2 separate regions of the Homo sapiens genome follow, and region 1 is linked to region 2. Evidence: fine-mapped expression QTL. A gene starts in region 2. The other region holds a variant in brackets. All regions are shown on one strand. Distances are from middle to middle. Region 1 has its middle 18 kb from the start of DNASE1. Region 2 holds the start of SLX4 (SLX4 structure-specific endonuclease subunit).

Region 1 (5,380 bases), 25 kb after region 2:
CTGTCGCCCAGGCTGAAGTGCGGTGGCTCGATCTCGGCTCACTGCAAGCTCTGGATTCCGGATTCACACCATTCTCCTACCTCAGCCTCCCAAGTAGCTGGGGCTACAGGTGCCCACCACCACGCCTGGCTAAGTTTTTTTGTATTTTTAGTAGAGGCGGGGTTTCACCATGTTGGCCAGGATGGTCTCGATCTCCTGACCTCGTGATCCGCCCGTCTCGGCCTCCCAAAGTGCTGGGATTACAGGCGTGAACCACCGCACCTGGCCATAAGTGAAATTATTGACAGCAATATCATAAGGGACAGTAAGGATGATTATTGACCCAATCATTGAATACATTGTTGCGGGTTTGTTTTTGTTTTTGTTGTCGAGACAGGGTTTTTTTGTTTGTTTGTTTGTTTTTTGAGACAGAGTTTCGCTCTGTCACCCAGGCTGGAGTGCAGTGGCGCAATCTGGGCTCACTGGAAGCTCCACCTCCCAGGTTTGCACCATTCTCCTGCCTCAGCCTCCTGAGTAGCTGGGACTACAGGTGCCCGCCACCATGCCCGGCTCATTTTTTGTAGTTTTAGTAGAGATGGGGTTTCACTGTATTAGCCAGGCTGGTCTCGAACTCCTGACCTCGTGATCTGCCCACCTCGGCCTCCCAAAGTGCTGGGATTACAGGCATGAGCCACTGTGCCTGGCCGAGACAGGGTCTTGGTCTGTCGTCCAGGCTGGAATATAGTGGTGCGATCATAGCACACCACACCCTTGAACTCCAGGGCTCAAATGATCCTCCTGCTTCAGCCCCTCAAGTAGCTGAGACGACAGGTGTGCACCACCATGCCTAGATAATTTTTTTTTTTAATTTCTAGTAGAGACAGGGTCTCGCTATGTTGCCCAGGCTGATCTTGAACTCCTGGTCTTAAGAAGTCCTCCCGCCTCAGCCTCCCAAAGTGTTGGGATTAACAGGTGTGAGCCATTGTACCCAGCTTTTAAAAATATTAATAATAGAGTCAGAGTGTTACTATGTGGCCCAGGCTAGAGTGCAGTGGCTATTCACAAGTGCAATCCCATGACTGATCAGTACAGGAGTTTTGACCTGCTTCATTTCTGACCTGGGCTTATTCACCCCTCCTTAGGCAACCTGGTGGTCCTTAAGGAGGGGAGGTCACCATTTTGATGCCAAACTTAGTGCAGACACTCAGTCCAAATAGCCCAGAACTCCTGGACTAAAGCTATCCTGCCTCAGCCTCTTGAGTAACTGGGTCTAGAGGCATGCACCACCATGCCTAGCTGTTGCTGTTATTACCTTGAACAAACTGTTAAAAATAAGTTAAAAATAAGAAAAGTAGACCGGGCGTGGTGGCTTTTGCCTGTAATCCCAGCACTTTGGGAGGCTGAGGCAGATGGATCGCTTGAGGTCAGGAGTTCAAGACCAGCCTGGCCAACATGGTGAAACCCCATCTCTACTAAAAATAAAAAAATTAGCTGTGCGTGGTGGCGTGTGCCTATAATCCCAGCTACTCAGGAGGCTGAGGCAGGAGAATTGCTTGAACCTGGGAGGCAGAGGTTGCAGTGAGCCAAGATCGCACCATTGCACCCCAGCCTGGGTGACAGAGCCAGACTCTGTCTCAAAAAAAAAAAAAAAAAAAAAAAGTAAGAAAAGTAAAATATTTTGCCTTCACTTATTTATTCTCTAATGCTCTTCCTTTATAGGTCTTTATTTCTGACCTGTATTATTTTCCTTCTTTCTCAAACACTTCTTAATATTTTTTGCAAGGCAGGTCTACTGATGACAGATTCTGTTAATTTTTATTCTTCTGAGAAAGTCTCTTCTCTTTTGAAGGGTAATTTTACTGGATACAGATTTTTAGGTTAATAGGGTTTTTTTTTTTTCCTTACAACACTATAAATATTCCCTCTACTGTTTTCCCTTGAATAATTTCTCAAAGAAGTGTGATGTAATTCTTATCCTTACTCCTTTATAGGAAAGGAATTTATTTCCCTGTGGCTTCTCTCAAGATTTTCTCTTTGTCTTTGATTTTCTGTAGTTTATTGTATGCTTACATGTAGTTTTGTTCTGTTTTTGTTTTTTGCTATTTATCCTACCTGGTATTCTGTGAGCTCCCCAGAACTGTGTTTGGCATCTGTCATCAGTTTTGGAAAATTCTCAGTTCATTATTGTTTCAGATACTTTTTCTGCTCATTTCTGCCTGTCATCATCTTCTGGATTCCCATTATGCATATTTATGCCTTTCTAATTGTCCCACAGTTCTTGGATATTCTGTTCCATCTTGTTCATTCTTTTCTCTCTGAGTTTCAGTTTGGGAAGTTGCTACTGACATTTTTTTTCAAGCTCATTGATTCTTTCCTTTGACTGTATCTAATCGATGAATCCATCAAAGGCATTCTTCACTTTTCTTAGTTTTTTTTGTTTCTAGCATTTCCTTTTGATTCTTTGAGTCTTTATCTCTGCTGAAATTACCCATCTGTTTTAGCATATCATCTACTTTTTCCATTAGAGCCCTTAGCATATTAATCATAGTTGTTTTAAATCAGAGTTGTTAGCTGTGATAATTCTAACATCTCTGCTATTTCTGAGTCTGGGTTTGATGCTTGCTATATCTCTTCAAAGTCTGCTTTTTAATCGTAGTATGCCTTGTAATTTTTTTGTTGAAAACCGGACTTGATGTACTTGTTAAAAGGAACTGAGGAGGCCGGGCATGGTGGCTCACGCCTGTAATCCCAACACTTTGGGAGGCTGAGCGGGGAGGATCGCTTGAGCCCAGGAGTTCAAGACCAGCCTGGGCAACGTAGAGACCCCGTCTCTACTAAAAATAGAAAAACTAACTGGGCATGGTGGCACACGCCCGTAATCCCAGCTACTCAGGAGGCTGAGGCACGAGAATTGCTTGAACCCGGGAGGTGCAGGTTGCAGTGAGCCAAGATCATGC[C/T]ACAGTACTCCAGCCTGGGCAACAGAGTGAGACTCTGTCTGGGGAAAAAAAGAAAAAAAAACAGGCCAGGCACAGTGGCTCATGCCTGTAATCCCAGCACTTCGGGAGGCCAACGCAGGCTGATCACTTGAGGTCAGGAGTTCGAGACCAGCCTGATCAACATGGCGAAAGCCTGTCTCTACTAAAAATACAAAAGTTAGCTGGGCATGGTGGCAGGCGCCTGTAATCCCAGCTACTTGGGAGGCTGAGGCAGGAGAATCGCTTGAACCCAGGAGGCAGAGGTTGCAGTCAGTAGAGATTGAGCCAGTGCACTCCTGCCTGGGTGACAGAATGAGACTCCATCTCAAAAAAAAAAGAAAAGAAAAGGAAGTAACTGAGGAAAATCAGCCTTTGGTGTGAGTTTTTTAGTTTATCTGGCTAGGCGTTAGGCTCTGTCTGCTGTTTGCTGTAACTATAGGTGTCAGAACTAAAATTTCCTCCTGGGTCTGTTTTTCCTTCCTTGGGTTTCCGTAGAGACTTCTTAAATAAAGTCTGAGATATGCAGGTTTTTCCGTTCTATTCTCTTGTTATTATATAGGAGCCCTATTTATGTGGTGGGAAGGAGGGGAAGTGTCCTAAGTCCTGTGACTAGGTCTCAGTCTTTTTGTGAGCCTGTGCCCCTGGCCTGTGACTTTTACCAGCACTTCTCAGTTTGGGGTTTTTGCCTCCTTAGGTGAAACAGGAAGGGAGAGGGGGCTGGAGTTAGGCCCTTTCTTTCCTGCCTGTGGAAGGCTTAGGGGTGCTTAAGTTGGGTCAACCTTTCCCTTAGGCTGATGAGGATCTTATAAAACCTAATTAAGTTAGGCTCTTGTAAAATAGTTTCCTTTGAGGACAGGCCTTGTTAAGAACAGGAAGCTCTAGACATAGTCCACATGGCTGCTTTCCCCCTCCCCCGCCAGAAGTATGAGAGGATCTTTCTCTGATCTTGACTGTGAGAGTCTGGTAGGGCTCATGGAGGTAAAGTCCACATTGAGTCTCCAGCAGTTCATGAATTGCTGTGTAAATTTTCCTACCCTCGTTTCCACTCCTGGGCTCCTGCTCAGGTAAGCTCCAGTTCACCCTGTTGACATGTCTCCTGTGTCGGGGGCAGTCATTTGCCCTGTAACTTCAGTTCTCTGATGCAGCTAAAAGGGGTTGTTTGCCAGTTCAGTGTTGTTTCTTGTAAGGATGGTAGTGACAACTTCTAAGCTCCTGACATGCCTCACTGAAGAATGAAAGTCCTTTGCCTTCATTTTTTAATGATATTTTTGGTAGATAAAAATAATTCCAGTTGACCAGTTTTTGTGAGTGTGTGTGTGTGTGTGTGTGTGTGTGTGTGTGTGTTTTTCCCAGTACTTTAAAGATGTTACTTCTTTGTCTTTCCGCTTACAGCAGAAGTATCATGTCATTCTTACCTATATTTATCAGTACATAATATGCTTTTTAGCTTAACTGCTTTTAAGACTTTTTAATTTAACACTGGTTTTCTACAACTTGATTATGATGTGTCTTGGTGCAGTCTTCTTCAGGTTTATTTTGTTTGGGTTTTTCTTTTTTTTGAGGCGGAGTCTCGCTCCATTGCCCAGGCTGGAGTACAGTGGCGCAATCTTGGCTCACTGCAAGCTCCGCCTCCAGGGTTCACGCCATTCTCCTGCCTCAGCCTCCCGAGTAGCTGGGACTACAGGCGCCCGCCACCACACTCAGCTAATTTTTTGTATTTTTTAGTAGAGACGGTGTTTCACCGTGTTAGCCAGGATGGTCTTGTTCTCCTGACCTCGTGATCCGCCTGCCTCGGCCTCCCAAAGTGCTGGGATTACAGGCGTGAGCCACCACGCCCGGCCTCTGTTTGGGTTTTATTGACTTTCTTGGATGTGTGAATTGACAGTTTTCATCATATTTGGGAAATTTTGCTTATTTCTTCAAATATTTCTGTCTCCTCTTTGTTTTTCTTCTAGGACTTCCAATTATGTGCACATTAGACAGCTTGATAGTGTCCAATAATTTTTTCTCTCTGCCTTATTTGAGTAGTTTCAATTGCTATGTCTTCAAATTCATGGATCTTTTCTCTTTCAGTGTTTATTTGGTGTTAATCCCATCCAGTGCATCTTTTCATTTCAGGTTTTGTTTTTACTGTCTCTGGAAGTTCCATTTGGATCTTTCTATATCTTCCGTGTTCTCATCATGCTCATGTTTCCCTTTACCTTCTTAAATATATGCCGAACTATTGTCCTTGTCTGCTAGTTCCTTTATCTCTGTCGTTTCTAGGTCAGTTTCTATTGACTGTGTATGGTTATAGGTCATATTTTCCTCTCTTTCTTGCATGTCTGTTATAGCAGTTATCAGTTTATTGCGTCTCAACTCTAAATCCACCCTTCATTGCCACTTGTGATACTGGAACATTTCTCCCTTGCCCCATGCTGGTCTTT
Region 2 (5,380 bases):
CTGTTAAAGTCCACAACTGGGCCGGGCGCGGTGGCTCACACTTGTAATCCCAGCTCTTTTGGAGGACGAGGCGGGGGGTGGATCACCTGAGGTCAGAAGTTCGAGACCAGCCTGGCCAATATGGTGAAACCTCGTTTCAACTGAAAATACAAAAAATTGGCCAGGCGTGGTAGCAGATGCCTGTAATCCCAGCTACTCGGGAGGCAGAGGCAAGAGAATCGCTTGAACCTGGGAGGCGGAGATTGCAGTGAGCCGAGATCGTGCCACTGCACTCTAACCTGGGCAACAAGAGCAAAACTCTGTCTCAAAAAATAATAATAATAAATAAATAAAGTTCACAACTGAAAGAGTGTTTTGTTGTCCAATAGATGCCTCTGAGATCGAATACATATGAACCTGGTGCTCAGATAATTCTCCAAGATCTCCATGATGATGAAACATATATGGTTCACTTAATTACACATCTGTGGAAAACCAAAAGCATGTAAGTGTAATCAGACATTGTCATTTTATGCCAGTTCTTCCAGGGAGGGACAAGGGCATGTGGGGTGAGGGAAAAGTCTTCGGAGTAACAATACTGTCAAATACTCAGTCCAGCCTGGTTAACATGGTCTAACCGTCCTATCAGACATCACAACAAAAGGACCTAGAAACCTGTCAAAGCATGTTGTTCTTCCACAGGTATTAAAATATGTGCATCTTGGGAGAGTGTTTTCTTAACTGAAATTTAGGGAGCAAACCCCATAAAAGGCAGTCACCACAGAAACAGGATGATCCCCAAATCTAGGAAAACTATCTCCTACACTGATCTAAGACCCCTGGCTGTTAAAGAGGCTCTTTCTGTAAATACTGCAACATAAGAGACAGAAAGAGACATTATATTCTCATGAACACTCAGGAGAGAAAAGGTCACTTTTACTTATCTTCTCAACCCAGCAAGGCTCTCCAAACCTGGATGACTGGAATGTCGCCTGTGTGCAAAGGCTGGGCCTCGTGAGCATGGTTGTTTACTTTGGCACACAGCTAAGTGGGGTTCAAAAATCAAAACTGAATGACCCAATGGCAGAAAGTTATTCCTTTCAAATACAATAATGCAATCTCCACTGTCCAAGGAATCTAATTAATCATTTTGTTTTCCAGAGCTGAAAATACTCCTACCTAGAATCTACTTTGTATGGCTGGCGCATTCTCTTCTGTGTCTTCCCCTTAGAGAAGTGTCCTCTAATCCTTTATGGACCGTCTCCATCCCCGTTAATCCCTATCATCGCCCACTGTTTTCACAATGGCATCTGTCATAGGTTATCATCATATGAAACAGGTAATATCTATCGAATGCTTACTGTGTGCCAAGCACTGTTCCAATTGCTTTCCAAGTCAAACTCGTTTAATCCTTACAAGAAGCCTATATGGTGGAATCTCTTGTCATCCTGTCTTTACGGCAAGGAAACACGCGCAAGCAGAATGAGGAACTGGCCTAAAGCCAGTTCAGGAACAGCTTTCACAGTGGCAGGGCTGGGATCAAACCCAGGAAGTGTGGTTCGAAACTATCCGCTCTTGTGTTTTTATTCATCGGCTTATTATCTGTCCCCCATTAAGCTCAACACTTCAGGAGGGTAGAGATCCATCTATTACTTTGCAACCTCTTTGGCTGATCTGGTGCCTGACTTGAAATAAGTGCTCCACAACTACTTGTTGAATTCATGAATTGCAAAGAGTTCGGTATAATGGGAGTAGAGAGAAAGGTGTAGGAGAAAACGCTGCGGGGAGAGGAAAGGATTGGCTCACAAGGGCCTGGAAGGTCAGGCTAGGCAAAGTGAATTTTATCCTGTTGGATGCGGGGAGCGGCTGGAACAAATTCCACCTCCACAACTGTGTTGATCTCCGCATCTCTGTTGATATGAACCTCACAACAGTCTATCTCCTCCTATAGGTGCCCAGTCAAGATTTACTGAATGACATAACGGATCCTGCAAGCCTGCAGGTTTCCAGAGGGAAGGGGACTTGTGCCTCCTTGCTTCGTACCTACCGCAGCCCACGGCTCACAGCAGGCGAGGGATGAATGAATGGATCGGTAAGGGGCGGACCCTCCCGCTTCCCCCAACCCGGCGACCTACGGAAAGGGGCTGAGGGGTTCCCCGTCTGGGAAAAGGGCTGCCAAAGACTCTAACGGCTCTAAAGTCAGACGGAGAACCCCGATCCCCGGACTGGCCCGGACGGAGACCACCGTGGGGATCCGGATCCGCCACCCTCCTCCCTCCAGGCGGGCCCCGGCCCCTCTCCACCCGAGTGCGGCTCCTGCCTCTCCGTCGGGGCTGCGGGCCTGCCGAGGCCACGGAGCCAGCGAGGGAGACGGGCGAGAAAGGCTCTTCTCCCTTAGGAAAGAGAGAACGGCCCGAAATGACAGGACCTCCGCCTCCCGGGTGCCGACTCCCAGCCCCACAGCCCGGCTCCTCCTACCTCCGGCGCCGCCGCGGCACCTTCTTAACGGAGACTCGCGCGCCTGCGCATGCGCCGCCCGCGCCCCCGCGGAGCATTGCCTGCGCGCAGGCGCAGAGCGGGCGCGCGCGGTGGTGCGGCAGCCTCGCTTCCGGTCTTCCTCTGCGGCGCCGGGCGCGGGCCCGCGGCGGCCAGCGCTTCCGGTCGGCAGGAGGCGGGGCGAGGCGGAAGCGGCGCTTGCTTCAGGTGGAGTCTGTTAGTTTTTGAGAAAGAGTTAGGGCGAGTTTAAGGCACTGTGGCAGCTGTGAGATAAAGTCTGGTTCCTCCCCAGCTGGCTCAGGAAATGTTCGCGGATACAACGGCGGCCCCCTCTGGGCATACCTGCCTGTGGAGCGGAGAGTGGACGGTGTGAGGGGGACCGGGAGAGGCACCAAATCTGGCCTGGGGGCCCGAGAAGCTTCCTCTCAGGTGGGGTGGCGTGAGAGTCGAGGCCTGGAGGTCGGGGAGGGTTAGCTACGTGAAGAGGGGATTCTGCCGCGCTTCAGGTGCCTGGAGGGGATGCCCGAGCTCTTCCGCAGGGCTAGGGTGAAGCCAGCCAGGGCCTGGGGGAAAGGTAGCAGAGGTTTGCCATGGCTTGGTATTTGAGGGACTTTACACATCGTATTAAGGGTTTGAGCTTCAACTTGGGGTCGTCGGGAGCCATTGAAGGTTTTTTGTTGTTTGTTTTTTGAGACGGGGTTTTGCTCTTGTTGCCCAGGCTGGGGTGCAGTGGCGCGATCTCGGCTCACTGCAACCTCTGTCTCCCGGGTTCGAGCGGTTCTTGTGCCTCACCTTCCCAAGTAGCTGGGATTACAGGCGCCAGTCACCACGCCCAGCTAATTTTTGTGTTTTTAGTAGAGACTAGGTTTCACTCTGTTGCCCAGGCTGGTCTCCAACTCCTGACCTCAGGTGATCCGCCCGCCTCGGCCTCCCAAAGTGGTGGGATTACAGGCGTGAGCCACCGCTCACGGCTTTTTTTTTTTTTTTTTTTAAGTAGAGACGGGCGGTGGGGGCGGGGGGGGGAGTCTCACTATGTTGCCCAGGCTGGTCTCGAGCCCTGGCCGCAAGAGATCCTCCCGCCTCGGCCTCCCAAAGCGCTGAGATTACAGGCGTGAGCCACCACGCCCGGCGTAAGATTTTGTTTTTAAAGGCCTAATTACAGTGAGAACAGATGAGGCAAGGACACCCATTAGGAGGCTATTACATAATCTAGATGAAAAGTGAGAGCGGCCCGAATTAGGAGGTGGAGCGAAAAGAATGGAGAAATATGGAGCATAGTCAAGACGCAGTTGTTAACGATTTGCCGGTTTCTGGCCTTAACATCTGAGAGTAGTGTGCCTCCAGTCACTGAAATAATGAACACAGGAGAGGTGTAAAGGAATCAGTTTGCAGGGCAGACAATATGTTTTTTAAAAGATACAGTATCATAAAATGCACACTAGAAGTGTACATTCAGTGGTTTCCAGTACGTTCACAGGATTTGCAGCCATCGTCGCTAATTCCAGAACGTTTTAAAACCCCAAATCGAACCTGCCGTACCCATTCGTAGTCACTCCGCAATTCCCCCGACCCCATCCCCTGGCAATCACTTATCGGCTTTCTGTCTCTGTGGTTTTGCGTATTCAGTACATTTTATGTAAATGGGATCATGTGATACTTGGCTTTTTCTGCTGGGCTTTTATTAAGCATGTTTTCAAGATTTCATCCATGTAGATGAATCAGTACTGCATGCCTTTTCATGGCTGCATAATCACGTGTTTGGATGGACCATGTTTTGTTTATCCATGTATCAGGTGATGGGCATATGGATGTTTTTACTTTTTGGCTGTTAGAAATAATGCTGCTATGAACATTCGTGTTCATAACACAAGTTTTTGTGTTCTAGGAGTGGAATTACTGGGTAAGACTACATTTGATTCTGAATGTTGAGCTTCAAAACCTTCCAAGAGGTTTTCCTTGATGAAGGATTTAGGAGGTGTTTACTTGCTCTCTGGCTTGGAAATCTAAGTTAGTTTGTAATATGGTTTCCAACTGGATAAAGAAGACAGAACAAGAATGATAAGCAGCCCAGAGGCAAGGGTAGGGCAGGGTGTCTTGGGACTTGAATTTATAGAGGAGACTGAGTGACGACATGGAGAGGCCAGTGCTGTTGAAATAATTTCTCTTTCCTTCCTTCCCTTCCTTGCTTCGTTTTCGACGGAGTTTGGCTCTTGTTGCCCAGGCTGGAGCGCAGTGGTGTGTGCAACCTCCACTTCCCTGGTTCAAGCGATTCTCCTGCCTCAGCCTCCGGAGTAGCTGGGATTACAGGCGCCCGCAACCGCGCCTGGCTAATTTTTTTTTTTTTTTTTTTTTTTGGACAAAATCTCGCTCTGTTGCCCAGGCTGGAATGCAGTGGTGTGATCTCGGCTCACTGCAAGCTCTGCTTCCCGGGTTCACGCCATTCTCCTGCCGCAGTCTCCCGAATACCTGGGACTACAGGCGCCCGCCACCACACCTGGCTAATTTTTTGTATTTTTAGTAGAGACGGGGTTTCACCATATTAGCCAGGATGGTCTCGATTTCCTGACCTCGTGATCTGCCCGCCTTGGCCTCCCAGAGTGCTGGGATTACAGGTGTGAGCCACCGCGCCCGGCGTAATTTTTTGTATTTCTAGTAGAGACGGGGTTTCACCATGTTGGCCAGGCTGGTCTCAAACTCCTGACATCAGGCGGGCGATCTTCCTGCCTGGACCTCCCAAAGGGCTGGGATTACTGGTGTGAGCCACCGCGCCTGGCCTGAAATAATTTACTTACATTTCTCAAGAAAAGGAGGCGTGCCACCACGTTCAGAGCCACAAGGGAGACATCAGCTTTTGGTTAGGAGGAAGAAATAGGAACAAGGAGAAAGTCTAGGCCAGAACCTTTAT

What was found.
Region 1: its variant is fine-mapped to the expression of SLX4 in whole blood (TOPMed, PIP 0.95).

The regions. Positions count from the first base shown.
Region 1 is chr16:3,633,843-3,639,222 of GRCh38, forward strand. It overlaps a transcript of DNASE1 not described here. Among named protein-coding and RNA genes, the nearest start is that of DNASE1, 18 kb to the right of the region's middle. RefSeq lists an enhancer at 3,768-3,817. The variant C/T (reference allele first, on the strand shown) is at 2,937.
Region 2 is chr16:3,609,103-3,614,482 of GRCh38, forward strand. SLX4 (SLX4 structure-specific endonuclease subunit) reads right to left here and starts at 2,504. Exons shown (of 15, transcript NM_032444.4): 1 at 2,458-2,504; 2 at 1-464. It also overlaps a transcript of DNASE1 not described here. RefSeq lists a silencer at 2,362-2,711 and an enhancer at 2,752-2,821.